3 separate regions of the Homo sapiens genome follow, and regions 2 and 3 are each reported to be linked to region 1. The links are microRNA targets in miRTarBase. Many come from high-throughput screens and were not tested one by one. Region 1 holds a microRNA gene; each other region holds the end of a gene's coding sequence.
Evidence for each region. The annotated mature microRNA hsa-miR-4704-3p reads UCAGUCACAUAUCUAGUGUCUA and lies in region 1 at 3,976-3,997, opposite strand. An mRNA with a match to its seed (bases 2 to 7 or 8) in the 3' UTR can be bound and repressed. Matches are read on the target gene's strand: a 7mer-m8 pairs with bases 2 to 8, a 7mer-A1 pairs with bases 2 to 7 and ends in A, and an 8mer does both.

Region 1 (10,466 bases):
CAACTTGGTCTTGAGTAAGCCCAACCTTGTGAACATTTAGTTCTTAAATGAGTGTGGATTGCTTCTTAATATCTCTAACAACATACTATTTTAATTTGATCTATTTTTGATGACTGTTTTATCCTTACAGCGAAATTATCCAAATTAAGATAAATGACTTATCTAATATTGTATTCTAATATCTAGCAAAATGCCTTGCATAAAATAGGCAATCAAATACTTAAAAAGAAAATATCTATACTAAAACCTTTGTTTTGTGAGTTTTAAATTGTCAATACGTTCTTTCATATATATGTATATTGAAGAAAAATAAATTTTATGAAATAGAGAGGAATCTTAAAATCCATTAAGGTAAAGATTTTGTCTTTTCAAAATGTCTCCAAGTCATATAATTTTTCCCTACATATGAATTGACCTAAAAACTACTTTTTTTTTTTTACTCTTTTAAAATACATACCATAAATTGCCCTTAGACAACATTAGTATTCCTGTTTGAGTTGATAAAAACCTTTGTAGTTCACTGCCATCTTCATTATGCATGAAATGTGACTATATGGAATATACCGTGACTCTAGGAGCAATAATGTATTACCTTGAGGCTTACATAGATCAAAATCTGATGGCTAGATTGAGAGATAGGATAAAATGGAGGTTGAACAAAATTATTTTTAGTTGCGGTTTCTTGACTTGACAGAATAAAGTTTTATGACTATTTGGTCTATTTTATAGTGAGTACCATGAATCAGTCAAGAAGGTTGATGACCAACTTACAACACTACTGGCTCTAATAATGTGTATTCATCTCTTCATTTTCCATGATAATATTTTGTCATTTTAAAATTCCATTTTTATTAGAGTCCACCTAAGCATATTTTTTTATCACCACAATACTTCCCACAATGTCTTGTTCGAAACTTATCTCTGATATATATAGTTCATTAAATGATTCATATTTCAGTCCTGGTAATAGCCCAGGGAATGTAAATCTTGAATGAAATAATTTACAGAGAAAATTATAAAACTCATTATGCACGAAGAATGAGAACTATGTTTACATAGATTTACTTTTTATTCCTAACTGAGGGTGGCTTTCTACCAATGTTAATTATCCCTTTTGGTTTTTAATTGAATTCCTAAGTTTTAGATTGGCACAAGACTACTCGGCAAATTACTGCATTCCCCAGCTTCATTTGAAGCTCTCTGTGAGTGGAGATAATGTGAGTGGAGATAATACTTTTATGTAGCTCTTTTAAGAGGGGATTTTGCCCTTTCCTCCCCAACTGAGATATAGGAATGATTGCAAGAGCTCAAGCAACTTCTGTAATCCAGAAGCTAGAAACTGCATACTGAGGATGACAGGGCTGTCCTATGAGCCATATCTGGCTGAAACATACCATCAAAGAGAGATATATGACATTTCAAAGCTTCTATAGTTTTTGGTCTTTTTGTTGTAGCAGCTCAGACTGTACTCTAACAGTACAGTAACATTTTAAAATTCAATTTCCATTTTATGCCTCCATTATTTCCTCATGTTCATTCCTTTTAAAGAGGCTATTCCCATTTGTTCAGCTGAGAAAGCCTTAATTCTTATTCTTTTTTGATGTGATACTTGTCTTGCTTCATCCACTGTGGGCTCTCTTCTATGTTTCGTAAGCACTATGGTCATCCAACTTTCTGTCGTTATTTATGGGCATTTAAAAATCAGCTATAGCCCTTTTAATTTGCACCTTGATGGAAGTAAGGAAATGTAATTCATTTCTATATTTCCATCCTCAGCCCTTAGCACATTGCTTGGCACATGCTATGATTCAAGAACTGTGTTTTGGATGCATGAACACAGAGAAACCTCCAAAAAGGGAATCTAAACCAGAGAAAAGCAGCCTGGGGACCTTGGGTTGGGGAGAGAGGAGCTACCTCACTGCTGGGCTTCCCTAAGGACTGAAGAATAAGGGAGAACACCAGAAACTGAATGCTTGATTGTTATGCATCTGTGCCTCAGGGTGGGTTTTTTTTTCCCTTAATTTTAATTTTAATTTTTTAGTGCCAGCTGGCAGAGGCCACTCTTCCCCTACCAGCTGCCTGCCTGAGGTGCTGGCCAGCTGCCGGCAGCTGTGCTATGGAAAGAGAGCCCACCAGTACCCAAGACAGACCACTGAATATCCCTTCTGTAAGCTTCCTTGATAACTCCCCTTTCTTAACATCTAACCCTGCGAGTTGTTATCCTTTGAACAGACAACTTTCTTCAAGGATTGAAGTGGATGTAGCTCTCTAAAAAAAGGCTTAGTGGATATCAACTTTATTTTCATGACCTTGTTTATATATTCTAGTCACACTACATATTTTTGTTTGTGACTGTCATGTGTGGAAAGGTGTTCCAGGACCTAAATATCATAACAAAAATAGGCATCTCAGTTGAGTGACTGCTTCTTTTCTCATTGCTTTTCCTGGTAAGTGAGATTGTTCAAGAAATTCTTCTCCCTCTTTTTTGGCTTCGGGTTTGTATTCTTGTTCCTATCAGTAGTGACCATAAGTTGTCACCTAATGGAATTAGTTCAGTGACCCTTACAAACTAAATTAACACTCTATCTCCAGTTTCTACTGGATATGTGTCTAAATCACAGTTGGGCACCTTGTTAGCTGCCTCAGTTAAGAGTTCAGTGAAAGAATAAGCCATCCTCCCCTTTCATCCCTAGGGGCTGTCTCTTAGTGTACTAGAGGCTCATTAGCAGCCTTGTAACACTGAGATTGCCCACAGTATACTTATTCTAACAGGTTTTCTTACTTTGAGACATGGTAAATGTCTATTGCAAATCCTGTTGACATTTAATTTTCAAATTATCTTCTGTATTTGTTTGCAATTTACTCATAATATATGCATAATTCCAATCTGTTGAAATATTGATTCTGATTTACGATTTAGTAAATTAAGGAATGGTTGGGTTGCATATTAAACTTTGGAAGTGACTCACAATATATTACATTTATATTACCCTTTAGAGTTGCACAAAGTCCTTCCATAAATACTGTCTATGAGCATAATGGGGAAAAGAATCATGTTTAATTTATCTTTAAATCCTTAGGGATATAACCCAATGCTAGCACATGAAAGACACATAATACAGGGTTTTTAGTGAACAACCAATCAAAGAGGATGATAGATGTGATAGTCTTAAAATCTACCCACAAATTAGTTGATACTTCTTGTATTTGTTTTCTATTGATGCTGTGATAAATGACCACCAAGTAAATGGCTTAAAGCAACACAAATTTAATATCTCACATTTCCTGAATTTAGAAGTCCAAAATGGATCAAAAATCAAATAAGGGCTCCAGCCTTCCAGAGGCTTGAGTTGAGAATCTGTTTCCTTGCCTTTTCCAGCTTCTAGAGGCTGCCTTGCCTGGGCTTGGCCTCACTCTGACCTCAGCTTTTGTCATCTCATCTCCTTCTCTGACTCTGACTCTCCTGCTCTCTCTTATTAGAACCTTTTGTGATTACATTAAGCCTGCCTGGATTATCCAGGATAATCTCTCCATCTCAAGATCCTTAACTTAATCATATCTGCAAAGTTTCCTTTGCCATGTAAAGCATAGCATAGATCTCTGAGATTAGAAAGTGGCATCTTTTGTGGGGGGTGGGAGGCATTATTTAGCCTACCACACTCAAGATGTTAGTCTAACTCCCCTCCTCTTGAATATGGACTGACCTTAGTGAATTGTCTAAGGAATAGAGTACAATTTAGTGACACTACAGGACTTTTCAGGTTAGGTTATTTGAGTCAATACAGTTTCTACCTGGCTCTTTTTGTCTTGGGTTTTGAAACCCTAAGCTACAATATAAGAAGTCTGGTTTCATTGAAGTTACTATGTGTTAGAGAGGCCAGCTGGAGATCACATATACACATGGTGAGATCACACAGAGAGATGATCAAGAGACAAGAGGTGTTCTAGCCCCCAGATGTTTGAGTCTTCTCATTCTAGACACTAGATATGTGACTGATTGAGTGAGGAAGACAATCACTCACATGCCTAGTGTCTAGGATAAGAAGATTCATCCTTAAGATGACTCCAGTCCCAGCCACCAACTGACTACAACCATAGAAAAGACTCGAGAAAGACTGCTGCCCGAGGCTTGGCAGAAAAAAATGTGTGAATGAAATCAATTAAAGGTATTGTTTTAAGCTACTGTTTTAGGGTAATTTACTATGGAGCAAGAGATAATCAGAAAAAATATAAAATATTTTTCCAACTTTAAAGATAAGAAAACAGAAGTTTAAAGATGTCAGCATATAGAAACATTCATGAAGCAAACCCAAATTAGAGAAGAATTAGAGTAACATCGAAAGTACTGAACAGGATCCTGGCCAGATCTCTGAAGTCCAGGTTCTAACGTTTGCTTGTGTGACTTTAAGTATGAGTCTTAATATCTCTGTGTCTCAATCTCCTTATCTGCCTTATCTGTAGAATGATAATAATAATAGTACCTACTTCATAGGTATATTCTGACTATTAAATGGTATAATGTAGATAAACATAAAAGAGTACCTGAAATTATTAATGCCACCAAATTATAAGCTATTTTTTAGTGTTTCATTATCAATTTAGTGCCTTTCTCAGGCTTACCAGTTTCCTTCCAAATAGCACTAAACTCAACTCATGAATGTTCAAGAATATTTTATGAAGATGTCCCAGTTGTCTGGGTTCTACCTCTATTGTCCCATTCAGAAATTTGAAGGGGGGTGGGAAACTTCCCAAATGAATGGCATCTCTGTCTGGAAGCAACTCTAATTCGAATATTTATTGGGCATAATTTGGAGATTCAAAAGCTTATTACTAATGTCCTACACTTTTTCTAAACCAATAGAGAGACTATTTCTTATGGAAAACCCTCTTGTCAGCGAACCAATTCTCAATTACCATTGAACTTTCTCCCACCATCTGCATATCTTCAAATATCTGTTAACTCCTTCCATTTGTCTTCTTACCTTCTACAGTTAAGTTATTTATCTATGATCAAGAAAAAGCATGTAACCAGGTTGCTGGCAGTAAAGGATCTATGGAATCCTATTTCCCCACTGCCCTAAACATTTATCAGCAAACCTCTTACATATCCCCAGTTGGTTTTACCTCCTATCACACTTAGCTCTTATTTCAATAATTGTAGTTTCTTAAAATCCCCAACTGCTCCAGCACTTTTCTTTTCGTCTAATAAATGGTACCAACATCTAAGTCACAGAAAAATATAAAATCCATGTACTCTTACATGGTCTTTTTTTTCCTCACTGAGAAACTCTCGTGTGTCACGTCAGGCAGTCATTGTTGGCAGACACATTCAATATTTAATCCCAGCCAATATCTTCTCAGGCAGTCGTGACAAACTCATGTCTCTCTAGGGATTTTAACTACATTTAAGAGAAGTTTAATTTTCTCCTTGTGGTTTAACCCATCGTTAGAACTCCTCCAAAAAGGGCCGCAGTTACAGAAAGAAAAAAATAGGCATCAGTCCAAGATTTCTTCATTTTTGTTTTTCTTTTGCTTTTCTTCTGAGTTTGCAATCTCATTACCTCTGCACCCATCAACACACACTCTTCACAGTCACAGCTCCACTTTGTTTGGAGCTCAAGACTCTGACCTGTTTCAAAGCAATAACCTATTTGTGCACAGAATGAAAATCATATTAGTGAGGTTGGGTGTTTTTCTTCTTAGGTACTTCTTTCTGTGTTCCAGAGTCTGATAAATCATTTCTTCTGACACTAAACTCTTTAGTGAGAATTTTTTAAATAACCAGTTGACCCTGGATTTTCTCGTGTACTCTCTAACTTGAACCACACATTCTACTATCAAGACAAATCCAAGTTGGTAGCCAACACATCTTCCTGAGAATTTGAGCTAGTTAAGTTAAGAACAAATGAATGTTTTCTTGATTCTTGGTATTAGTAAGAATGGAAACCTGAAGTTGATAAAGTTTTTGATTGAGAAAAGTAGTGTAATGAGGTTTTGCTTTTACCCTATTTCTCCTAAGTGAAGAACGACAAGGCATTGACAGTGAAATTAGTCTCTTCATTTATTGATTTGGCTCTTAAAAAGAAAGAGATTTTAGAGATGTCAAATAGTAAAATCAAAAAGGGATGTGTAAAGAAGTTTTTAGAGAAGCAGAATGGATGCAGATATTCAATGACTGCTTGAGACCTAACGAGAAATATTGGCTGGTTGTGGTGCCATATGCTCATCATCTCAGCCCTTTGAGAGACTGAGCTGGGAGAATTGCTTGAGGCCAGGAGTTCAATCCCAGCAATATAGCAAGACTTGATGGTACATACCTGTAGTTCCAGCTGCTTGGCTGGATGAGGTGGAAGGATCATTTGAGCACAGGAGGTCTATGCTGCAGTGAGCTCTGATGATGCCATTGCACTCGTCTGAGTGATAGAACAATATCTGGCCTAAAAAGAAGAGAGAAGAGAAGAGAAGAGAAGAGAAGAGAAGAGAAGAGAAAAAAGAAAAGAAAAGAAAAGAAAAGAAAAGAAAAGAAAAGAAAAGAAAAGAAAAGAAAAAGAAATCCAGCCATGAAGAGGGTCCCTGTGGTGTAGGTAGCTAAGAAAATTTTTAACAGTCATACTGAATATTTAAGTGATTTCTTTTTTATGTTGTTTTGTGATTGTTGTTATTTATCAAACATAGCAGTGAAAAGTTCGTATTAAAGCAGAGTATCCCAAATTTGGTAATCTGAAATCTGGAATGCTCCAAAATCTGAAACATTTTGAGGACCAACCTGATGCTTAAAGAAAATCGTCTTTCAAATTTGGGATGTATGGCCCAGCAGGGTGGCTCATGCCTGTAATTCCAGCATTTTGGGAGGTCGAGGCAGGTGAATCCCTTGAGGTTAGGAGTTTGAGACCAGCCTGGCCAACATGGCGAAATTCCATTTTTACTAAAAGTAGAAAAAATTAGCTAGGCATGGTGATGCATGCCTGTAATCCCAGCTACTCGGGAGGCTGAGGCAGGAGACTCACTTGAACCCAGGAGGCAGAGGTTGTACTGAGCTGAGACTGTGCCACTGAACTCCAGCCTGGGCAAGACAGCAAGACTCCATCTAAAAAACAAAAAACAAAAAAGAGCTACTTAACCAGTAATAGTAATGCAAATATTCCAAAATCTGAGAAAATCTTAAATCTAAAACACTTCTGGTCCCAAGTTTTTGCATAAGAGATAGTCAACTTGTACCACAAACCTTGTTGGTGGAGCTTTGGGAAACGGGAAGAAAGGTCAAAGCATTCAGAAGTGGCCAAGTGACAGAGGAAGGGCAGCCACTATAGAAAGTAAAACAAGTGCAAATCAATAATGTATTTGAAACAAAAATTTGGTAGAAAAACATGAGAGTAACTTCTTTAGAAGCCTAACAACATTTATGAAATTCTTTGACTTTTATAATTACATGGAATGGGCCTCTAGCAACTTTCTTTGGATATTAAAGGGAATGTTAACCAAGAAGTGTAGAATAATTTGCTTGTTATTACAAATTTTTATTTCAGTTTAGATGTAGCTCCAAAGCTTAACAGCCATCTAAAATAAAAAAAGTTCTCAATCTGAGTTCAATGTGTTCTCTCATAATTACTCATTTTCTCCAGTATTTCTTGTTAATCAATAGCACCTGCACACACCTGGAAGTCATCTTTCATTTTCCTTTTTCACTTCCTACATTAGGGCATCAGGCTGTATAGGTTCTAATTTTTTAAAATTTTTATGGATTTAGGGAGTATAGTGCATTTTTGTTCCATAGATATAGTAGTGAAGTCTTGGCTTTTAGCATAACTATCACCCTAACAGTGTGCATTGCACCCAATAGGTAATTTCACATACCACACCCACCTCCCACACTCCCACCTTTTGAAGACTCCAATGTTTATTTTTCCACGAACTATATCCATATGTACAGTGTATATTGCATATATATATATATATATATATATCTTTGTGTGAGTATGTGTGTATGTACGTGTGTGTATAACATTCTCTTTATTCAATTATCCACTGATGGACATTTAAGTCGATTCTATAATTTTGCTATTGTAAATAGTGATGCTATAAATACATGAATACAGTTGTCTTTTTGATATGATACTTTATTTTCCTTTGTGTATAAACTCAATAGTAGGATTGCTGGATCAAATGGTAGCTCTATTTTTAATTATTTGAGAAATATCCATACTATTTTCAATAGAGGGTGTACTAATTTACATTCCCAACAACTGTGTATAGGCATTCCCTTTTCTTTGCATCCTCACCAACATCCGTTGTTTTTTGACTTTTTAATAATAGCCATTCTGACTGCTGTAAGAGGATATCGCACTGTGATTTTAATTTGCATTTCTCTGATGATTAGTGATGTTGAGCCTGTTTTCATGTTTGTTGGCTGCTTGTATGTCTTCTTTTGAGAAAAAAATGTTCATATCCTCTGCCCACTGTTTAATGGGGTAATTTTTTTTCTTGTTGAGGTGTTTGAGTTCCTTCTAGATTCTAGATATTAGCCCTGTGATGGATGTATAGTTTGCAAGTATTTTCTCCCTTTATGCAGATTTTCTGTTTACTCTGATGATTACATTTTTGCTGTGCAGAAGGTTTTTAGTTTAATTAAGTCTCATTTGTCTATTTTTGTTTTTGTTGCGTTTGAGAACTTAGTCATAAATTTTTTGCCTAGACCAATGTCCAGAAGAGTTTTTCCTAGGTATTCTTCTAATCTGTTTTATAATGTCAGGTTTTATGTTTAAGTCTTTAATACATCTTGAGTTAATTTTTGTATATGGTAACAGGTTTCATTCTTCTACATATGGCTATCCAATTTCCCCAGGACCATTTATTAATTGGATCTCTGTTCCTCAGTGTATATTTTTGTCAACTTTGTCAAAGATCAGTTGGTGGTAGGTGTGTAGCTTTATTTCTGGAATCTCTATTCTGTTCCATTGATCTGTGTCTGTTTTGATATGAGTACCACACTGTTTTGGTTGCTGTAGTCTCATAGTATAACTTGAAGTCTGGTATATGATACCTCCAGCTTTGTTCTTTTGGTTAAGATTTTGCTTTGGCTGTTTGGGCTGTTTTTGTTTCCTATGAATTTTAGGATTTTTTTTTCCGAATTTTGTGAATATAATGTCAATACTCAGATAGGAATTACATTGAATCTGTAGATTGCTTTGGGCAGTATGGTCATTTTAACAATATTGATTCTTCTAATCCATGAGCATGGGATGTTTTTTCATTTGTGTATGTCATCTACAATTTCTTTCAGCAGTATTTTGTAGTTCTTGTAGAGATCTGTTACCTTCTTGTTTAATTGCATTCCTAGTTTTTAATTTTTTCATAGCTATGGTAAATGGGATTGAATTCTTTATTTGGTTCTCAGCTTGACTCTTATTGATATATAAAAATGGTACTGATTTTTGTATGTTGATTTTGTATCCTGAAACTTTACTGAAGTCATTTACCAAATCTAGAGGTCTTTTGTAGAGAACCTTATGGTTTTCTAGTTATAAAATCATATCTTCAGCAAACAGAGCTAACTTCACTTCCTCTTTTCAAATTTGGATACCTTTTACTTCTTTTGCCTGATTGCTCTAGCTGGGACTTCCAGTACTAAGTTGAATAGAAGTAGACAGGCACCCAGAATGGTGCCATGCTGCAGTTGTCCAGTGCTAGGAAGCCAGTCGGACTTTACATGAGTTAGAGCAGTGTCTCTCTGTGATCTCCAGGCAGCTTCCTATGCCAAGTAGAGGCCTGTGAGGGTTGAGGGGCTCTCTTGTAGCTGGATTGTAAAGGTCTGTGGCAGAAATGTGGAGCCCTGGAGGTCTTTCACTTATCCCTTCCCTGGGCTAGGGAGCAGCTCCAGGCCCCAGCAATCCTGACTGAGCAACCCTGCTTCCCCCTCCTTCACGCTTTGTATTTTTTATTGCCTCTCTGTTGAATCCCAGTGTTCTCTCTCAGATGAGCTATTCAAAGTCTTTCATTTATCCCTTCCCTGGGCTAGGGAGCAGTTCCAGGCCCCAGCAACCCTGACTGAGCAACCCTGCTTCCCCCTCCTTCAAACTTTGTATTTTTTATTGCCTCTCTGTTGAATCCCAGTGTTCTCTCTCAGATGATCTATTCAAAGTGTGAATATCTACTAAATATTTTGGTTCTTCTCTGTGGAAGAGACAGACCACAGCTGTTTTTAGTCAGCCATCTTGAACCTCTCCCCCTAACTGTTTTCTAGTTCTACTTCTTAATAGCTTTCAAATCTCTCTCCAACTCATCATCCCTTCCCACTCTCTCATGGATAGCTTTAATTCTCACCTGGTGCTATGGACCAAATGTTTGTTTTGCTCCCCCACCCCAAGCCTTATATGTTAACTTTCTAATGCCCAATGTGATGGTATTTGGAAGTGGGGCTTTTGGGAGGTGATTAGATTTGATGAGGTTATGATGGTGAAGCCCTTATG
Region 2 (10,210 bases), not on the chromosome of region 1:
GAACTTCCCAAAGTGTTGGGGACACAATATTGAATAAAACAAAACTCTTGCCCTCATGGAGTTTACGTTCTTTCCTATATTAACAAGACTTCAGGAATGAAAAATAAAATCACACTTGGCCTCACAGAAAATAGCAGAAAAATCCAACAAAAATAAACTCAAAAGAAAAAAAGGGGGAAACAAAGTCATTTTAGATGTTCAAACTTTACCCCTGCTCAAGCAGTAGGTGAAATGAAACATCAGTTTTAAAGAAAAAAAACCCTGTAATTCTAAGCTTCTTTAACCACATGCCACTGCCCACCACTTCCCCAAAGCCCTTCCTTTGTTTCCAGGGCAGGTGACAACCCTCACTTTTTCTAGGGTGTATGTGCACCCCTGCAAAGATTCCTGCTCCAGGTAGTCAAGTCAGTCCTGTCCTGCACACACTTCATTGGTATTCAATGATGAGTGCCACCAATTTGAAGCAGGAAACCAGGACATAAGCTAAGCAACTTGACTCTTCTTGCTGCCTGGCAAATTAGCACCACAACTGGTAAAGAAAGGCTAAGCCTTAGAGACAGAGGCTCCTGCCTGGATCTCTAAGCAACTACACTTCACCCACACACATTGGAAGAATGTCAACATAGAGAGAAGAAAGGGTGGAACAGAAAGGTCTAAAGAGTGAGCCACATAGCTTCTTTTGGCAAACCAACACTCCCAAAGGAAACATTAGGGAAAATACTGTCTTCTACAACAAAAGAGAAGCTTTGCAGCTAGGATTATTTTCCAAAAGCAGTATTTTTAGGATGGAAAAATTGCCTAGGTCTATGGAATCTGAATTCTGATGACTAAACCTCTATCTCTCCAGGATGTAACATGTGAAAACTTAAGAAAGATCCCTGGCTGTCTCCCACCCTGCCTTCTCCCTACTTCCCAAAGCCTACAAACCAATCTAGACAAGTTCCTGACTGTACCATAAACCATTTCTCAGGGAGCTGGAATGCATTCATACTTGACTTCAACTTGCTGGAAGTGAGAGTGACAGCAGGCAGGAGGAGACAAGTATAACTGCCAGGGAAAGAGAGACCAAACCAGACTGCCAAAAATAACCAAGGCCTTAGCAGAAGCCTGGGCCACAGTATAACATCCTGCCATGGCCGGCAAAGGGCCTAGGGTCCAAATACTGCCCCTTTTTGAAAGGTTGACCCACATCTTAGATGAAGGGGCTGGAACAGTTAGGTGGCCTTCTACCCTGCTTCTTCCTTGTCTTTGTGGGGAAGGGAAGAAGACACTGTAGTACACAAGGTTGCTTGGGAAAATGGATTATTCTAATAAAACTTTATTTTTTCAAACACAGCCACAGAGGCAGAACCTCATGTTTAACACACACAGACTTATGGATTTTTCTTTTAATATAAAACAAAGTTTACGAAAATTTTTTTCCACTTTTTGTATTTGTAATCCCATTAGCACAGGGACTTTGGCAGCAGGTGGGAGTGAAGGGCAGCTGAGCTGCCACTGGGCAGTCACTGGGCACAGGAGGAGAGCACCAGCCTGGGGAGTGGCTTCACTCACACACACAGGGATACTCACCTACTGGCCAACCACACTACACACACAGCACAGATGCAGACATTGACCCAGTGTCAGCCACATGCCCTGGAGGTGTGCTCCACTCTGGGTAAGCCCAATATGTGAAAATTCAAATAGTCAAAACAGCTAAAGTGGAGGGAGGTTGCTTGCTTTACAAAAAGAAGCAATCATAGGCTGCTTTTAAATGGTCAGCAGTCCAAATGCATTGAAAAATAGCATTTGGTTTACACAGAACTGTTGGAACAGATCTACTGTGTAAAGCAAAATGAACCAATTCTTGAAAAGTGTTCCAGGGCCACAGGTTCTTAGATTGGGAAGCAAGATGACAGTTCTGACTAGCTTAGTTTTCCAGACTGAAAGTAATGGAATTAAAATAATGATAACTGTAGACCTTCTCCCCTAAGGATGGTGCCCTGGGGCTTTGGGGAAACCAGGATGGAGGCAGAATCACTGCCTCACTTCTTCAGCTTAGGGCCTACAGAAACTCACTGGCATTGCCAGTAACCTGTTGGAAGCTGGCACAGCCAATCTACAGCAGAGAGCCCTGGGATGAGGATGCCCCAGGAGGAAAAGAAATTGGCACCAGGGAAATTATGGCCTGAAGAGGGAGAAGAGCCAGGGGAGGAATGAAACCATAGATGGGCAACTCCTGGGCTCACAGTTTCCCTGGATTCTCTAGAGGGCCTCTCTCAGGCCCCTAGAGACCTGGTAGCCTAGTGGTAACTAGCCAGGAGATAGGGAGGAGCCTCTGAGGGCCAGAGGCTTAAGAAGACATAGCCACCTCCTCTCTGGAGTGGAGACGAGGAGGCTGAAGCCTCACTGATGCTCCTGACATGCAGGAGATCCAGAAAATGTCAGGTTCAATTCCATGAGGAAGAAAACACAAAGACCTTGGTCTTCCTCCCTTACATGAGGAACTGGGTCCTAGGAAACCCTGGAAATTGAAGAGAAAAATGCCCTTCTTGCCATAAACAAGGGCAGGTCAAATTTGGTCATGCAGGGTCTAACCACAGCTGGATAAAACCTCACAAGCTATTGTGGTGGCAGCTTCAGTATGTGTTTCCACTGGTGCCAGCCCTACCAAGGTACTTAAACCCATCACTGTGGCCACTTGGACCAGCTGTCCTGGCTCAAGTTGCGGGTGAGAAACAAAAAAGTAAATTCAATCCAATGACAACCAAACTCCCAACTGCTTCTCACAGCCTTTGCTTTATACATCCTCAGCCAATCCCTCAGTGAGCCCCAACCTCCCTATGGTCTCTCAGGCCCAATTAGAGGCAAATAAACACTTCCTGGCAGGAGTGGAAGACAAGCAAACTATTAAATGCTAAACACCCCTTCTTCCCTCTCAAGCAGGTCAAAAAGGCTGGGCCTGGATCTTGTAAGAATTGGTTTCCTGCAGTCACCTTCCCAACAGCAGTGCTGGGGTGAGCTCACCCATGTCTGCTGGGGACTGAATGCCACTTCTGTTGCAGGTCTGCCTCAGTAGATGCTGGGGACCAATATAGGGCCTTCCTACCTAGTCTATGACTTAGAAGGGCAGAGGGTGAGGGGAAAAGGGTCCCATCAGCAGAGGAGAGAGAGAGAGAGCCCCTCAACCCTGCTTCAGTTGCCCATGTGCTGTGTGCAACTCTACTCAAGAGGGCAAAAGAGGCAGGTGGAATATAGCCTGGACAATCTGATGAGAAAAAAAGGCCAGCTCAGAAAAAATATGGTGACACCCCCCACCTGCATTCCCCAATATACTAGATCGAGCTAGTGGGGAGGGGGTGGGGCTGAAGAAAAGATCATTAGCTGAAGTCACAGCACTTAAAACACCCTGCTGTACCCCAAAATGAAATCCTTTGCAGAGTCGGTGATGCTATGGATTACAAGCCTGGTTCCAGAGCTATTTAGAAAAAAGGAAAACTTGGTGCCCTCCTCTTGACTCCTTGAGCAAACCCAACATCCTGTAAAAAACTCAAGATCCTGGGGGTATCATGATACTCTGCTGTTAAGGAGCAATTGCCTTCCTTCCCTAAGGCTACGCAAACACACCTTTCCACAAGTACACTCCCATGCACGCACACACTCTCACGCAGTTTCTCTGAGGAGGCTGACTCAACCCCCCACCCTGGCCAAATTCTAAGACACAAGTGCCCTTTGAAGCAAAGGGGCTAGTGAAATTCCCCGAGCTGGGGTCGGCAGACCCCTTCCTTCCCTGCCCATTGCTCTCTTGGTGGCAGGGATACTCACACTCAGGGCCGCCATAGGAAGGGTCTGCTCTGGGGCTGTCCCTCCCGCCACCAGCTCCGTTTATCTTGTCCCGGCCAGTCTCTTGGCATGGTCGAGCTTGCTGGAGCGAGAAGATTTCCAGCTGCCCTGAGTCGGAGCCCTCCACTCACCCCCATTCCCAGGCTCGGCCCCCAGCCTTGGGGACTCGACACTTGTTAGTAGCCATGAGAGAGTCAGTCTGTGTGGCCCCAGGAAGTAGCCTCTCAGTTTTAGTTTTCCTCAATCAAATTCAAGTCCAGGTCCCCAAAGTCCCGCTGGCACAGTGTCCGCTTGCTCAGCGCCTGCCGACCCCACCGCACAGCCCCCTCCTCCTCCTCTTCGCTTTCACTCAGCACCTGGGAGGAACCCCCAGTGGGGCTGCAGGAAGCAGAGAGGGGTGGGGGGCTACAGGCCATGAACCATGGTGGAGAGATGCTGCTGCCTTCCCGGGCTGTTTCTTGGAGACAAAGACCTCCTGAGTATGGTTTCTGTCAAACAAACAAAGAAGACAGTTACACCTGAAGGCAAGAATTCTTTAGGGTGAGGTTTGTAAACTTTTTTTTTTTGAGACGGAGTCTCACTCTGTCACCCTGGCTGGAGTGCAGTGGCGTGATCTTGGCTCACTGCAAGCTCTGCCTCCCGGGTTCACGCCATTCTCCTGCCTCAGCCTCCCCAGTAGCTGGGACTACAGGTGCCCGGCCCACGCCCGGCTAATTTTTTATATTTTTAGTAGAGACGAGGTTTCACCGTGTTAGCCAGGATGGTCTCAATCTCCTGACCTCATGATCCGCCTGCCTTGGCCTCCCAAAGTGCTGGGATTACAGGCGTTAGCCACCATGCCTGGCGTTTGTAAACTTTCTGACAAAATTTGGAGCCCATTGTTTCCATTGAATTGAAGAATAGAAGCTCCGTGAGGGCAGGAACATCATCTGCAGTGTTTCATTACTTTGTACTGCCAGTGCCTAGTCAGAGTCAGTAAATGTTTGCAGATGGGATGGACGACTGTATGAAAAAATTAATTAATTCTTAAAGAGGTTTGTAACCTAGTGGTCTAGAAAGAATAATATGAAAAAAGTGAGCAAAGTGCATACATACAATAATTGTACTCACACCAGGAAGTCAAAAAACATTTGTCTAACAGATGAATACACTGTAGCAGCCCATCTTGCTTCAGCCCTCACAGACCCACTTTGAAGCAGTGACAGGCAAGTGGCAAAAACAGCTTTGGGCACAAGGAGTAGGTACTGATGGAATTTTTTGCAGCTTGTGCATTCTTGGAAAGGAGGGAAAGTACCTCTTGCAGGACAATTTGGGATCTCTGTTGGAAGGTTTAACATGGGTCTCACCCCAGTTTCTCTAACTCCCAGGATTAAGGCATTTCACAGGATGGGGGGACTTTCAGTGCTAACACTGGGACAGTCCCAGGCAAACTGGGATGGTAGGTCACCCTAGCTAAGAGCTAAAGGAGGTGCTGTTGGTGGTGGGGGCGGCAGGGTAATGAAGCTAGGGGCTAGCTCAAAAGTGGAAACAGAACAGTCCCCACACTCCCATCTAAGCTCCCCTAGTCTTGCTGGTCCCACCTGATTCATCTTGTCAAAGTCCAACGAAGGCCGCAGACGCCGGGGGTCTTCCTCGTGGCGCCGCTTGACCCCAGTTTTGCGGGCATCCAGATCACAAGGCTGTGAGCGGCTTCGGGGAAGGTTGCGGAGACCTCGAGGTCGCCAGGGCAGCTCTGGGGAGGATGCGGGAGAGCTCCGGGCAGAGGGCAAGAAGCGGCTTGCCTGCGGGCCCAGACTGGGTGACAGGGAGAAGCGGCGCTGAGGTGGGCAAGGTGACAAGGACTCAGCATCACTCTCCCAGGAGCCACTTTGAGGGGAGGCGGCGCAGGGTCGAGAGGAATCTTGGGCCAGGGCCAGGCTGAAGAAAGGAGGGCTGTAGGGTCTGTGAGCTGGGGCACATTGAGAAGAGGCACTGGGAGCTTGGAGGAACCTGAGGCTGGAGACCCGCTTTGGGGGGCTCTGGTGAGGCACCTGCGGCCCACCCCCTCCACCACTGCCCCGGTGCTTTATGGGAGTCCACAGCTTGGAGGGGGCGGGCCGCCACACCGGCTGCCAGCGAGACAGGTCCACGGGCACTGAGAGTGAGCGGCAGTGCCTCTTGGATGGAGGGGCAGGGGGCACAGGAAGCTTCTCTGGATCTGGGGGCTCAGGTCTTAGGACTTGGGAGAAGGGCTGCTCCTTGGGGGAGTTTCCCCGACTGGGTGGTCTGAGGTGCAGGCTCAGGCCTGAGGGATGGTAGCTGAAGTTGAGGCTGTCCTGGAACTCAGCACAGGAACAGTGGGGCAGGCCCCTCCAGGAAGCACCTTCTGGAAGGCATTTATAATAAGAATAATATTAATGATAGCTTACATTTTTTAAGAACTTACCATTTGCCACATAATGTATGGAGCATTTTATGTGAAAATTTCCAAAAACCTTATGAGGTAGGTAGTATCGTTATCATTATCCCCATTTCACAGATAAGAGAAATTCAATAACTTTCCCAAAATCACATAGCACTCAAAAGACCAAAGGAGGATTCAAATCCAGGTCTGTCTGATGCGAAGGCTAGGTTTTTAAACCACTATGCTCTATTGCCTCCATTGTGACCAACTACCTGGAATCAAAAACATTTCATCTACTGCCTGCCACTCCCTCTCAAAGGTAAAAGAAGTCAAGAGAAACAAACACGTTTGTGAGTGTCCTGCTCATCTCTCCCTCGCCCCTCCCCCACGCTTGCCCTGGATGCTGAAAAGCAGGCCTATGCTCTTCTTTCTCGGCCTTTCCTCCTCTCATGTGTCAACAGCACCAAGTCAGGAGTTAGGACTGCCAAGAAGTAAGAGGTAATCAGGCAGGTAAGAGATCACTTTTATTCCTAGGGAGGGCAAACAGGGTGGGGAAGGCCTTTGACAGTGAAACCTGGGCTTGGGAAACCCTGACTTTGTGCTGCTCATCTTCGTTTCTGTCTGGCCACCCACATATTCCGATTCCCTTCCCCTAGGCCTTCTCTTAAATCCAAACAGATGGAGGGACCAAGAGAAGGAAGGGAAAATGGACTAAAAGAAACAATCCTCACTCACTGTATTCCAACCAAAATTGTGACTTTTGGGAGACGGCTCATTAAGGGACAAAGGGCCTAATCCAAACTCCTCTGGCTAGCTGGCTGGAATTCTGCAGGGGCTGGATATTTGGGGCAAACGACAAGTATACGAAGTCAGACTTGATGGTGGCAAAATTCATACTGAGTGTATTTGGTCTATAGTTCTTCCCTCTACTAACCACTATGAGGGCAGGGACCATGAGTTCCTGCTCTATACTTATGACACAATACCTGGCTTTCAGCAAGTCTTTAATAAACAGGAGGAAGAGACTGAATGAACATGTTTTTGCCAACTCACTTCCCTTGCTAGGTATCCCAGAAAAGAAAATGAGATGCAGAACTGCTGAGCAGCACGAGTTAGGGAGTTCTGATTGTCCACCAGTGATGCCTCCATCTAAATGTCCCTACGATCAGGGGCCCTTTAACTCAGTAATTAATAATCTACGAATTTATACCTCAGATATATTTTCACATGTGAAAAAATGACATATGTACAAGGTTATTCACTACAGTTTCTTTTTTCTTTCTTTTTTTTTTTTTTGAGATGGAATCTCGCTCTGTTGCCCAAGCTGGAGTGCAGTGGGTGCGATCTCGGCTCACTGCAACCTCCGCCTCCTGGATTCCAGGGATTCTCCTGCCTCAGCCTCCTGAGTAGCTGGGATTACAGGCGCCTGCCACCATGCCCAGCTAATTTTTGTATTTTTAATAGAGACGGGGTTTCACCATGCTGGCCAGGCTGGTCTCGAACTCCTGGCTTCATGCTATCTGCCCACCTCGGCCTCCCAAAGTGCTGGGATTACAGGCATGAGTCACCACGTCTGGCCCACTACAGTTTTATGTATCCAAACAAGATTAGAAATAACCTAAATGCACATCAATAGAAAACTCATTAAATAAGCCACTGTACATCTATGCAGTGTAATAATATGTAGCTATATATAACAAGGGAATGAATACTCAGCATTCTGATAGGGAAAGATCTCCTAGCTATATTAAAGTTTTTTTTGTTTTTTGTTTTTTTTTTTTTTGAGATGGAGTCTTGCTTTGTTGTGCAGGCTGGAGTGCAGTGGCATGATCTGGGCTCACCACAACCTCCACCTCCTGGGTTCAAGTGATTCTCCTGCCTTGCCCTCCCGAGTAGCTGGGATTACAGGTGTGTACCACCATGCCAGGCTAATTTTTGTATTTTTAGTAGAGACAGGGTTTCACTGTGTTGGCCAGGCTGGTCTCGAACTCCTGACCTCATGATCCGCCCACCTCGGCCTCCCAAAGTGCTAGGATTACAGGCATGAGCCACTGTGCCCAGCAATTTTTTTTTTTTTTTGAGACAGAGTTTTGCTCTTGTTGCCCAGGCTAGAGTGCAATGGCGCAATCTTGGCTCACCGCAACCTCTACCTCCTGGGTTCAAGTGATTCTCCTGCCTCAGCCTCCCGAGTAGCTGGGATTACAGGCATGCGCCACGACGCCTGGCTAATTTTATATTTTTAGTAGAGATGGGGTTTCTCCATGTTGGTCAGGCTGGTCTTGAACTCCCGACCTCAGGTGATCTGCCCACCTTGGCCTCCCAAAGTGCTGGGATTATAGGTGTGACCCACTAGGCCCGGTCCCATTTTTTTTTTTAAAGGTACAAAATAATATATAGTATGCAACCTTTTGTGTTAAAAACGTGGAAATAAAATAGATGCAGCTAACCACCATGGCACATGTACACCTATGTAACGAACCTGCACGTTCTGCACATGTATCCGAGAACTTAAAAAAGAAAGGAAATAAATATATACATTTGCTTCTTTTTATATAAAGAAATTCTAGTCACATATACTGTATAAGAAACTAATACTTTTAGGGAGGTGGTAGAAGCTGGGTAGATAGGGAACGGGAGAGTAAGAGAGACTTTTCTCAGCATAACCTTTTTGTTGTTATTTTTTAAATTTTGAACCATGTGAATGTATTACCTATTCAAAAAATTAGATTATACAAGTCCCCACAAAGCTAGAATAAGAGCAAACCAACCAGATAACTTTCATGCTAGAACATGAAAGACAACTGTCAATCTCAGAAGTTGACCCTGGCAAGAAGGTTCTAGAGGTAGGCTCGCTAGCCCTGGTCACTGGAAACCAATGATAGAAATGTGTGGAGAGAGGAATGGGTACACACACGTACACAAACACACACGATGCCTTACCAGACACAAGCTGGAAAGAGTTCCCACAGTTGGAGATGTCTGCATGATCAGGCAAAGGCTAAGAAAGAGAGAATATCCATCATGATTTGGATTCAGGACACACTGACAGATTTCTAGGAAGCCCTCTTCAGTTCTCCTCTGCGATTCATGAGCTACAGGGATGTTAGGGACATTAAGTGTTCTTCCTCTTGTCTTCCCAAAGTTAGTAAGTCAAACAATCCACATCTTCCAACATCTCAAACCCTTCTCCACCCAAGTTTTGCTGTCCCTTCTCTATCGGTGGAAAAATCCCTGCCCCCTTCCTTTTGGGCTGGGTTTTGAGCCATTAGTGGGCTCTTCCAGGTTAAGTACCATGATTCATACAGCACAGGACAAGAGTAAAGTAATAGCAACAATCAGCCTCAGAAAAAAGGGGGAGGGGGTCGTGGAGAAGCAGGAAGACTGGTCTTTTACCAGACTGATGCTGAAGCGTGTGCATTTCAGCTCATCCAGAGTCTGCTTCTGTAGCTGCTCAGTGATCAGGGTTATCATGATTCTCCCCAGGATTTGACTTGCACACTTTGGAGCAAATGATGGATGTCTTCCCTGTTGTTCTTCCAGACCTCACTTGTGAGCCGTCTTCTGCCACTGCAGCACCATTCTAGCACCATTGGGACTTCCCTCTCCAGTCATGCCTGCTGAGTCTGCCAATTAGAGGGACCAGCCCCAAGTGATATTAGAGATGCACCTGGTCCAGAGATGGAAAATGCATGGCACACATACCACAGCACCCCTAAGCCAGGCCTCTGGCAGACATCAATTGATCACAGCTCTTTCCAGCTAAGCCTAAACACAGCTTCAGAAATTATGAACTTGGCAGTCCAGATATGAAATAAAATAGAGTTGGCAATCAAGTTGAAACTTATTTGCTACCCTTAAACTGGTTCATGCTCTGTTGTTTCTAACTGGAATACCAGCACCACTTAGAAAACAGCTGCTCAAGTGAGAGAGAGGGATGCCCAAATGATTATTTCCATCAAGATCAGCCCAGTATTTTATCTTCCAGTCAGAAGTGAAAAGAGG
Region 3 (10,466 bases), not on the chromosome of region 1:
TCACTTATCAGACGTGATTTGTAAATATTTTCTGTTCTGTGAATTGCCTTCTTACTCTGTTGACAGTATTTTTTTTTAATTATTATTTGTAGAGATGGGGTCTCCCTATGTTGCCTAGGCTTGTCTCCATTTCCTGGACTCAAGGGATCTTCCCACTTTGGCCTCCCCAAGTGCTGGGATTACAGGCATGGGCCACTGCACCTGGCTTATTGACAGTATCTTTTGATGAACCACATTTCAAATTTTTCATGAAGTCCAATTTGTCTATTTTTTTCCTTTGTTGCCTGTGCCTTTGGTGTCATATCCAAGTAATCACTGCCACATCCAGTGCTGTGAAGCTCTTGCCCTATGTTTTCTTCTAGGAATTTGTTTTAGGTCTTAGATCCAGTTTGATTTTTGTATATAGTGTTACGTAAGGGTCAAATTCTGTTCTTTTGCATGTGGATATCCAGTTTTCCCAGCACCATTTGTTGAAAACACTGTCCTTTCCCCACTGAACGGTCTTGGCACCCTTGTCAAAAATCATTTGACCATAGGCCAGGCATGGTGGTTCACGCCTGTAATCCCAGTACTTTGGGAGGCCAAGGCAAGTGGCCACTTGAGGTCAGGAGTTCGAGACCAGCCTGGCCAACATGGCAAAACCCCATCTCTACTAAAAATACAAAAAGAATTAGCCAGGTGTTCTGGTGCACACCTGTAATCCCAGCTACTCAGAAGGCTGAGGCAGGAGAATCGCTTGAACCCAGGGAGTGGAGGTTGCGGTGAGCTGCACTGCACTCCAGCCTGGGCAACAGAGGGATATGTCTCAAAAAAAAATCATTTGACCATAAATGCCAGGGTTTATTCCTGGGCTTCTATTCTATTCCACTGGTTTATATGTCTCTCTTTATGCCAGTACCATAATGTTTTGACTACTGTAGCTTTGTAGTAAATTTTGAAATAAGGAAGTATGCGTTCTCTAGCTTTGTTCTTTTTCAAGATTGTTTGTCTATTTACGGTCCCTTGAGGTTCTCTATTAATTTTAGAATAGATTTTTCTATTTCTGCAAGAACATATCATTGGGATTTGGATAGGGATTACATTGAATCTGTAGATGCTTTGTGTAGTATTAACATTTTAGCAATGTTATGTCTTCCAATTCATATACAGGGAATGTGTTTCCATATCTTAATGTTTTCTTTAATTTCTTTCAGCCGTGTCTCGTAGTTTCTATTGTACACACCTTTCACTTCTTTGGTTAATTCCTAAGTATTTTATTCTTTTTATGCTATTGTAAAACGGATTATTTTTATAATTTCCTTTTTTAGATTCTTCATTGGTATCATATAGAAACACCACTGATGTGTGTGCATGTGTGTTCTGAGCAGGGTCTCACAATATTGCCCAGGCTGGAGTGCAGGATGTGATCATAGCTGACTGCAGCCTCAACCTCCCAGGCTCAAGTGACCCTCCTTCCTCAGCTTCCCAAAGTGCTGGGATTAGAGGTGTGAGCCACCGCACTCAGCTGATTTGTGTGTGTTGACTTTGTATCCTGCTACTTTGCTGAATTCATTTATTAGTTCTAATAGTTTGTGTGTGTGTGTGTGTGTGTGTGTGTGTGTGTGTGTGGACACTTTAGGGCTTTCTACATTTTCAAATCATATTATCTGCAAACAGAGATAATTTTACTTCTTCATTTCCAAATTGAATGCCCTGTATTTCTTTTTCTTCTTAATTTCTCTGGCTAGAACTTTTAGTGCTCTGAATAGAAGTGGCGAAAGAGGGCATCCCTGCCCTGTTCTTGCTCTTAGAGGATAATCTTTGTCTTTCACTAATGAGTAAAATGTTTGCTGTGGGTTTTTACGTATGGCTTTTACGTTGACGTAGTTTCCTTCTGTTCCTAGTTCGTTTGTGTGTGTGTTTTTTTTTTTTTTTTTGACAGGGTCTTGCTCTGTCACGCAGGCTGGAGTGCAGTGGCATGATCACAGCTCACTGCTGCCTTGACCTCCCTGGCTCAAGCAATCCTCCCACCTCAGCCTCCCGAGTAGGTGGGACCACAGGTACGCACAACCACGCCTGGCTAATTAAAAAAAAATTGTTTTGGCAGAGACAGGGTCTTGCCACATTCCCCAGGCTGGTCTTGGACTCCTGGGCTCAAGTAATCTAGTTGTAAAAAGTTTAAAGCTGGTTTTTAAAAAGCCCAACTTTCATCATTGGCAGGATGTGCGTTCTGATAAAATTACTCTTACAGCTAGAAACAAGACCCTTTCCTTGCATTTCTAATTGTTTTGTTCCACTGCGGTATTTATAGTTTGATGAAGAGCATCTTACCCCTGCACAGTGCTTTTAAACTCTGCTGTGCCTGATATGAATACTCTTATTTTCTGCTTGTACCCTATTTTTCTATCCACTTATTTTCAGCCTGTCACTTTTATGATTATTACATCAACAGCATATTCCTGGGTTCTAGTTTCAACCCCAATCTGACCACCTGTCTTCTAAAGAGAAAAAACAGATTTAGTGTAACAATGTATTTCTTGGTTTGTTTAGGAAAGGACACCAAGGTTCAGAAACAAGTGAGAATTAGGACTTGAAAGACAAATGGGCGGGGGGAACTTCTTAGTTTGTCTTTTGAATTTTTATTACTTTTTCAGAGATGAGGTCTCACTGTGTTGCCCCGGCTGGTCTCAAACTCCTGGGCTCAAGCAATCCTCCCGTCTTGGCCTCCCAAAGCACTGGGATTACAGGCGTGAGCCACCCTGCCCAGCCTAGAAAGCATTTTTGACTGAACCAAAAATGCAAATCCTCACCAAAATCTCTCAGTGAAGTCACTAAGCTCCCATTAGAGTGGAGTGTGGAGAGGCCAAGGGCACTCACCTAGTGCCAAGATCCCACAGAGAAACATGAGGCCAGGGCATGGGCACCTCCTCCCAACAGGACCCCGTGACTGGGCCTTTGAACCATTAGATGCAGCCCTGGAGCCGCGGTCAGAGCGTGGCTGTCCCCGAGAAGGGAAGCAGCAGCCGGCACGGCCTGTTCTCCCATCTTCACATCACTCCCTCCATACAAACCACTGCTTCCCACCGCCTCCTGTGACAATGCCTGGCGAGGTGGTCATGCCCCCTTCAGCCCTCCTGAAGTGCCCTCTGGGAAATAAGGCACGACGGACAAATGGATTCAACATCCTTTTCTTTTTAAAACTAAACCTTGCTTGAGGGGCATGGTTTGGATGAGTTCTCTGACTTCATCCCTGGATTAGACAAATGTCCCCCCCTGGTCACGGGCAGAGGACTCCATGAGACGTGTCTAACCCAGGGATGCAGACTTCTCCCTTCGGCAGGACAGAGTCTACTGTGTGGAAGAGGACGATCCGGAACGTGTCCTCTCCATGGGCGGGCAAATCCAGGCTGGAGCCCAGAGCATGCCCTGCTCCTCGGTCTCTCCTCCTTGGCGGGGTAGGAAAGGCAGTCCCGGGGCCACGGTGCATGCCATGGGGGGTGTTCTCCCTCACAATGCTTTCTATGCTGCACTTTTAACTTCTCCTTTTCCTTAGTTCTAAAAGATTAAGGTGCAAATCACATACAATCAAATGCATAGGTCTTAAGTGTAGGTTTTGATGAGTTTGGACACATGTATACGTTCACATAACCACCATCACCAACAAGCTGCGGAAGACTTCCCTCACCCCAGAAGGTGTCCCTGTGCTCTTTTCAGCCAATCCTTCTCTCTTCCCTGCCAGGAGAAAACACTATTCGAATTTCTCCCATCAATTCGTTTGGTCGGTTTTAGAGCTTCGTATAGATGCTTACATATCTTACTTCTTTTGCTTAACGCATTTATTTATTTATGAGACAGGTTCTCACTCTTGTCACCCAGGCTGGAGTGCAGTGGCACGATCTCAGCTCACGGCAACCTCCACCTCCCGGATTCAAGTGATTCTCGTGCCTCATCCTCCTGAGTAGCTAGGATTACAGGTGTGCACCGCCACTCTGGGCTAATTTTTGTTAAAATTTTAGTAGGGACGGGTTTTCGCCATGTTGACCAGGCTAGTCTTCAACTCCTGGCCTCAGGTGATCTGCCTGCCTTGACTTCCCAAAGTGCTGGGATTACAGGCGTGAGCCACTGTGTCCAGCCTTCAACGTTTTTGAGACGTATACACATGGCTGCATTCATCACGGTTCACCCCCGTTGGTTACTAAGTAGAAGTCCATCGTATGACTACACCAGAATCTGCTTATCCACCCTCCTGTTGTTAGACATATTACGAATAAAGTGACAATAAATATCCTTGTACAAATCACCTGTGGACATGTATTTGCACTGAGTATCTAGGAGAGTCTGCAGGAGTATGTCTAATTTTTTAAAACCTCCAAACCAAAAAAAGAATTTGCCCACTAGTTTCCTAAACTGGAAGTATTATTTTAGACAGTAATAGGTGAGTTCTAGCAGCTGCACATTCTCCTATCTGGTGATGTCTTTTTCATTTGAACACTAATAGATGGAAAATGGGACCTTTTTGTGATTCTAACTTGCCCTCCCCAGGAAGTGATGATGTTAAACAACTTTTCATGTTCTTATTGGCCACTCATGTATACACAGGTCCCTGACTTAAGACGGTTCAATTTCAGGTTTTTGGACTTTACGATGGCGTTTCGGAAGCATTAAGCTCTCAGCAGAAGCCACACTCTGAATTCCGATCTTTTCCTGGGCTGGTGATGGATGCGCAGCACAGTGCCCTCCTGCAGTACTGAGCGGTGGCAGGGAGCAGCAGTCCCAGCCAGCTGTGCCATCGCGAGGGGAAGTGGCCGGCATGGATCGTTAAGTCAGGGAACATCTGTCCCTTCTTCGTGAATATCTGTGTTCAAGTCTCTTGCTCATTTGTTAAATTGGGCTTTTCATCTTAATTTTGGTTTGCAGTTTTCTCCCCTATATCCGAGGTCTGAGTCCTTTGTCAGGACACACAGTGTGATTTCTTGCCTGGCATTCCGTTCCTTGCTTGTCCATTTTCAAGAGCAGAACATTTTCACGTTGATGGAAGCCCGATGTCTTTCTTCTACGGTATGTGCTCTGCATCCAAAGCAGCCTTCGCCCATCCCACATTTTAGATAATTTTTTCTTCTAAAAACTTCACTGTTTAAGCGCTCATGTTTGGATCTGCAATCTATTTTGGATGAATTCTTGTGTATGACGTGCAGTAGGAATAAAGGCTCATGTCTTTCCATACGGATAGCCAGTTTTATTCACAGACACAGGTGGTGGCCAGACCTGGCACACGGATGCAGCTGACCCTGGAAGCTGAAGGGCAGTGAAACCCATCTGATTAAGATGCTCAACTTTTCTGAAGGTAAAGGTTTTAAATAATAGGTGGGATTGAAGTGGAAATTTAGAAAGGCTAGCAGGTGACATTATGGGGTTAAGTGAGTAAAAGTTAGCTAATGTTTGTTAAACATTTACCGTAAGTAAAAAGCTATTCAAGTCTTTGAACTTGTTCCTATTGTTTCCCCACCCAACAGAAAAAGCTGACACCAAGACCTGCCTAAGGTCACACCATCATGAGTGGCTGAGTTGGGCTGTGATGAGCCACCCGGCTGGAGAGCTTGTGCCCTGGTTACACGATTGCCAGTGAGATGCCTATGGACTCGCATGTAGAGGTGGGTACCCAGACAGCTCAGAGTGAGCTGCCTGCGGGCCCAGCATGCAGAGGTGTGTACTCAGTGCTGTGTGAGATGCCTGTGGGCCCAGGCACGGAGGGATGCATGCGTGCCCAGAAAGCAAAAGGCTGTGCAGAGGACCTGCTAGGAGGTAATGACTAGAGAACATGTTTTTAAGCAAACAGGTGAAGGGAAAATGCAAAATAAGGAGCTACATAAGCATCACATCTTAAGAATCATTATGGAGCACCTAACTGTGACTTGTTGGGCTGGGAGCCAAACAACATAGGTGGGACACGCTGCACATAAAAGTAACAAGCTGGAGGTCCAGAGGAACCCTTGGAGCCGTCCCAAGACTGAGAGCCGGTGTCAGGCACCACCTCTTCTGGGCACCTGGGCTATGGCAGTGGGGAGGATGAGCCCCTGATCCCAGAGGCCACTCTCTCACACAGTGCAGTGCAGTCTTTCTCACACAGGACCTAGTGTAACACGGGACCTAATGGCAGGACACATCAACCCATTAAAAATCCAAGCAAGGTACAAGAGATTTCTAGAAACAAAGAATCAGGCTTTATTTTTGTTATTTTGAATACAGGTATTGTATTGTAGACATCTGTTAGTCTCATAATTCAGTATGGCCAACACACAGAAATTAAAAGTAGAAACAAAATGAGGGCACACTTGCTCCTGTCCTTGGCTTGGCCCCTCCAACCTCCAAAAGAACTGTCCTCCCCATTGTCATATCCTTTCCCTGCTACGAAAGACAAAACAAAATGATGCCCCAAAGAAAAGTCCCAGAGGCTCTCTCCCAGCAGTCAGTGGGATGAAGCAAGACACTGTTACCTTGGGTAGGATGGAGAAGCCACCAGGTCCATACCACAGAGGCCACAGTGGGATGGAGAAGCCACCAGGTCCATACCACGGAGGCCACGTGTGCCACCAGTGGAGCCAAACCCTGGCCATGGCTGGCAAAACTCACCACCAGGCGAGACCAGAGCATATTATCTACCAGTAATCCCCGAGGTCCAACGCCATTCAAGTCAGGCAGCCCTGAGGCAAGCAGGAGGAGCCCTGTCCTCTGGGGGTGCTGCTTCCAGAGGAGGCCCAAGGACAGTCTCTTCAGAGAGGGGCTCACCCGGGAAAGGGGGTTCCTGAGGAGGCGTGCAAAGGTCAAGGGACCCACCCTTGCCACCTGTCCCAGGGCTTACTGCTGACTCCACTGTCCTGGGAGTGCTGGAATCTCCACACCACTTAAAATGAAAAAGGAAATCAGAAATAATAAGGCATTAGACGTTTGATTCTTTTATTTCCATATGCAATGTAATGTTTAGGCACGCTGCTTGGGATGCTACTTCTAAAAAAATTGTTGGCCATTTTTCAGAATATCCTTTTGGTTTTAAATACTGGTCAGGAAAAACAAATGATGTAAAAATACGTGAATAATTTTCTATTACAGAAATGAAAAACTGATTTGCATCTAAAAGTGCAAGAGGTGAAGTAATTTAACCCTTTCACCAGACGATATGGCAATATACAATATATTGCTTGAGCTGTTTGAGAAGGCTGTGATGTATTTTTGTATTGACATAGAAAATTATAAATTACATTGAATTAGTATCCATAATCACTATATATATACACAAACCAGTTCTAAAAAAATACACTGGTTTAAATTTATGAGTGAAAACCTCACAAGGTACAGTAAACAATTAGCATGCTTCGGTGCCAGATTTTGATTTCTACTTTTAAAATACTAGCCTGTAAAATGAACGCACTCTAATTCCATTAGCAGCACGAGCATTTTCAACTGACTTGCCTAATAGGATTTATTTTAGGTCTGTTAAATATGCAGATTGCTCTGAAATGTTCATTGGTGATGCTTGTTAACAAGGTAAATTTTGGTGAATGGGTTAAAAGGCAGATGAACTACCAAATGAAACAAAAAAACAAACAAAAACAAAAGCCAAAAAAAAAAAAAAAAAATCCCAAAACACAAGCCATATACACTCCAAATAGTCTAGTGTTTCACTTGTAGGAATAATCATTTCAAGCAAACAAGACTTGAACAGAACATATGGCTTTACGATAACATCAATTTATCAACTATGATGTAGCAATAAATACTTTACTTAATCTCTACCAATAGACTTACATTTTTGATCCGTTTTAAACAATACAGAAAACAATTACCAATCAAAAACTGGTTATAAAAAGAACACCAAATATTTCTTATTCAAAATCACTTTTGTAAGTTAGAACAACCAAAATAACACTTAGAGGGCATTTTCATTCTACAACTCCTTGTCGGCCTGGAGGAAAAATGAATTCATAATTTTGTACAAGGTGAAAAATGTATGAAAACCGCCTAATACTTTGGTCACACTAATAATTGTCAAAGTTATGTTTCAAATACAATAGATCTGTGTATTCACTTTTATAAAACTATTCTTACAGCCATTTTAACTATAGTATTACTACTATTATTACATGGGTGGCAAGATCTTATTTCACAGGCTACCCATTATTTAGAACAATACAATATAAACATACGCAAAAATTCTTGGTATTTGTCAATGTGCAATATTTTTACACTTCTGAATTTCTCTGTACAATGTCTTAGAATCTAGAATATAAAGGTTGCTGGTCCTGATCCCTTGCAGAGTGAGTGCAGCAGTGACAGCTTGGTGGGCTCCAGCTGACCCCTCCAGAGCCCCTGAGTGGTGGCGGTCTGCAGTCCTCAGTCAGCAGCAGCAGACGTCACCCGTCATACAGGGCCATTCACTGAAGTGTCACCTGGTGCGCTTGGTTGGCCAGTCCTAAGGAGCAACAGACAGGCATCGGAGGCACTTGCAGCAGAAATATGAAAAACAAAACCTACTTAGCTGAGCTCCCCAAGGGCAGGGACAACTTATTTTAACATTGTTTTGAACTTAGTAAGTTTTTAATAAAATGATATGTAAATGAATGGAGCAAAAGCTCTAGAAAAATCTGAGTGAGTGCATCTAAGCTTCATCACCGGGTGAGCAGGCATTCAGCAAGGGCAGCAGCAGAGCAAATGCTCTGGGAGAACCGCCCCACCGCGGCCTCCAAGAAGCACAGGGAGTGACTAGGTCAGTGGGGTATAAACTGTGGCTTCCAGAGCCTTCAGGAGCTATGTGTTCACCGCTCCTTCAAGAAAGCTTTTATGTGACCCACAGATTGGAATCCACATACTATTTCACTTGGAAACAGGATTCTGCTACTAGGAAAGGGGGGAAAAAAGGAAAGGAAAGGAGGTTTGCAAATAAACTACTGGAAAAAAAAAAAAAGGTGTCCACTTGAAGAACATGTCCCACAAAGCAAATGTTAGGCTCAAAACTGGGAGGGAATAACAGGTGGGACAGTATATAACAAAGTGTCCAGGTTTTGCCTTCCTGCCAAAATTACAACCTGAATATATAACCTATTCGGGAAGGCTTGACCAAAATTGTATCAAGCAGACTTGGGAAAGGGTGCTTAGGGCCGTAACTGGGATGCCCACAAGCACTTTTCCACTAGCATTCACAATTTACAGCTAGAATGCTACTCATGCCTTATACCTGCTGGTTATACAGTGAGCCAAAAAGTCAGCTCTGCACACACAATCCACTCTGCTCACTTACTTACATCTGATGGTGGCTCCGTGTATGAGAGACATAGGAATCGAGACTTCTGGAACTAGACATAACTGGTATATAACTAACTTGCCTTCACTTAAACAAGCTGAGTGATCTTATAAGTAGATTTCTTAGCCCCTCTCAGTTCTGTTTTCTCCTCTGTAAAATGGGAAAAGAACCCTCCCCACGCCCCACAGGGCTTCACTAGTATACATATGAAATAAGTACATAATGTGTGCAGCATGCTCAGCACATCAGAAGCACAAAGGACATGCTTGATAAAACAGCTGTGAAAAGTGAGATCATGTGGCAATGCAGATCTTTAAGTGTGACAGGAAACAGCGCGCCTGCCAATCCAAGGAACTGTGGTATCTGGCTGGGACGGGAACCACACAGGAAAGACGGGTGAGCTTCAATATCCCATGCTGTCATACGTCACTTTAGAACACGTGCAATCTAGGACGCACTCTAGGTCTGCCCTAATGCCCACTCCAACGTCACCTCAGAGATCCTCTCCCCCGCACCCCAGCTCACATGGACCCCTGTCCCTTCTTCGTGGCTTCTTGATGAATGTGCCTCTAGTATGCCCCGAGACCACTGGGTGTCCGTGTGCTGCAGCTTTATGACCCGGCCTAGACCAGTGGCCACCACACACAAACGTGTGTCAGAGGAAAGAAGGACAGATGGATAAAGGCATGGACCCAAGTGATGCCCCTCTTCTTCCACTGGCTGACCCCATCTTTTCCTCCATCCCTTGGCCCGGCAGGTTAGGGCAGGGCTCTTCAGAGCAGGCATTCCCAGCCACAGAGGAGAGCAAGTGGCTTCCCCTTATGCAAACAATTCTTCTGTGCTCAGAAAGCCAAGGAAATGACTCCAGAGCCTTGTGCATCCTTATGACAGAGAAACCAAGAATATTCCCCTGAAGCAACTGCCCCAAACTGGGATAGACCTGGACGATCCTGCCTAGGCAGCCCTCAATATAAAGGAAATTTATAGGTAGAAATCAGAGAGCTGAAATAATTGATTGGGAATGAGACCTATAAAGGACCATTAAAAAATACATTGAAACCCCAAGAAAGAGAGTGACTTGCCCAATCCGTAGAAGCAGAGTTGAGGCAGCTTCCCAGTGCTAGAGGGCCACCCTGCCTCTTCCCCCAAAAGCCTTCACTAGAGCCAACATGCTCAAATAGTTCTTAATTTG

Region 2: the mRNA of FAM53C is a reported target of hsa-miR-4704-3p. Seed matches in the 3' UTR shown: 7mer-m8 at 2,972-2,978 and 7mer-m8 at 1,503-1,509.
Region 3: miRTarBase lists PPP6R3 as a target of hsa-miR-4704-3p. Seed matches in the 3' UTR shown: 7mer-A1 at 8,368-8,374.

The regions. Positions count from the first base shown.
Region 1 is chr13:66,211,827-66,222,292 of GRCh38, reverse strand. MIR4704 (microRNA 4704) reads right to left here and starts at 4,043; the gene lies at 3,969-4,043.
Region 2 is chr5:138,340,805-138,351,014 of GRCh38, reverse strand. It overlaps FAM53C (family with sequence similarity 53 member C), which reads right to left. Exons shown (of 5, transcript NM_016605.3): 2 at 9,602-9,831; 3 at 9,149-9,206; 4 at 5,406-6,190; 5 at 1,286-4,313. The coding sequence starts at 9,679. The coding sequence ends at 4,056. Among named protein-coding and RNA genes, the nearest start is that of KDM3B, 6.8 kb to the left of the region's middle.
Region 3 is chr11:68,611,046-68,621,511 of GRCh38, reverse strand. It overlaps PPP6R3 (protein phosphatase 6 regulatory subunit 3), which reads right to left. Exons shown (of 24, transcript NM_001164161.2): 24 at 6,178-8,446. The coding sequence ends at 8,395. Among named protein-coding and RNA genes, the nearest start is that of GAL, 68 kb to the left of the region's middle.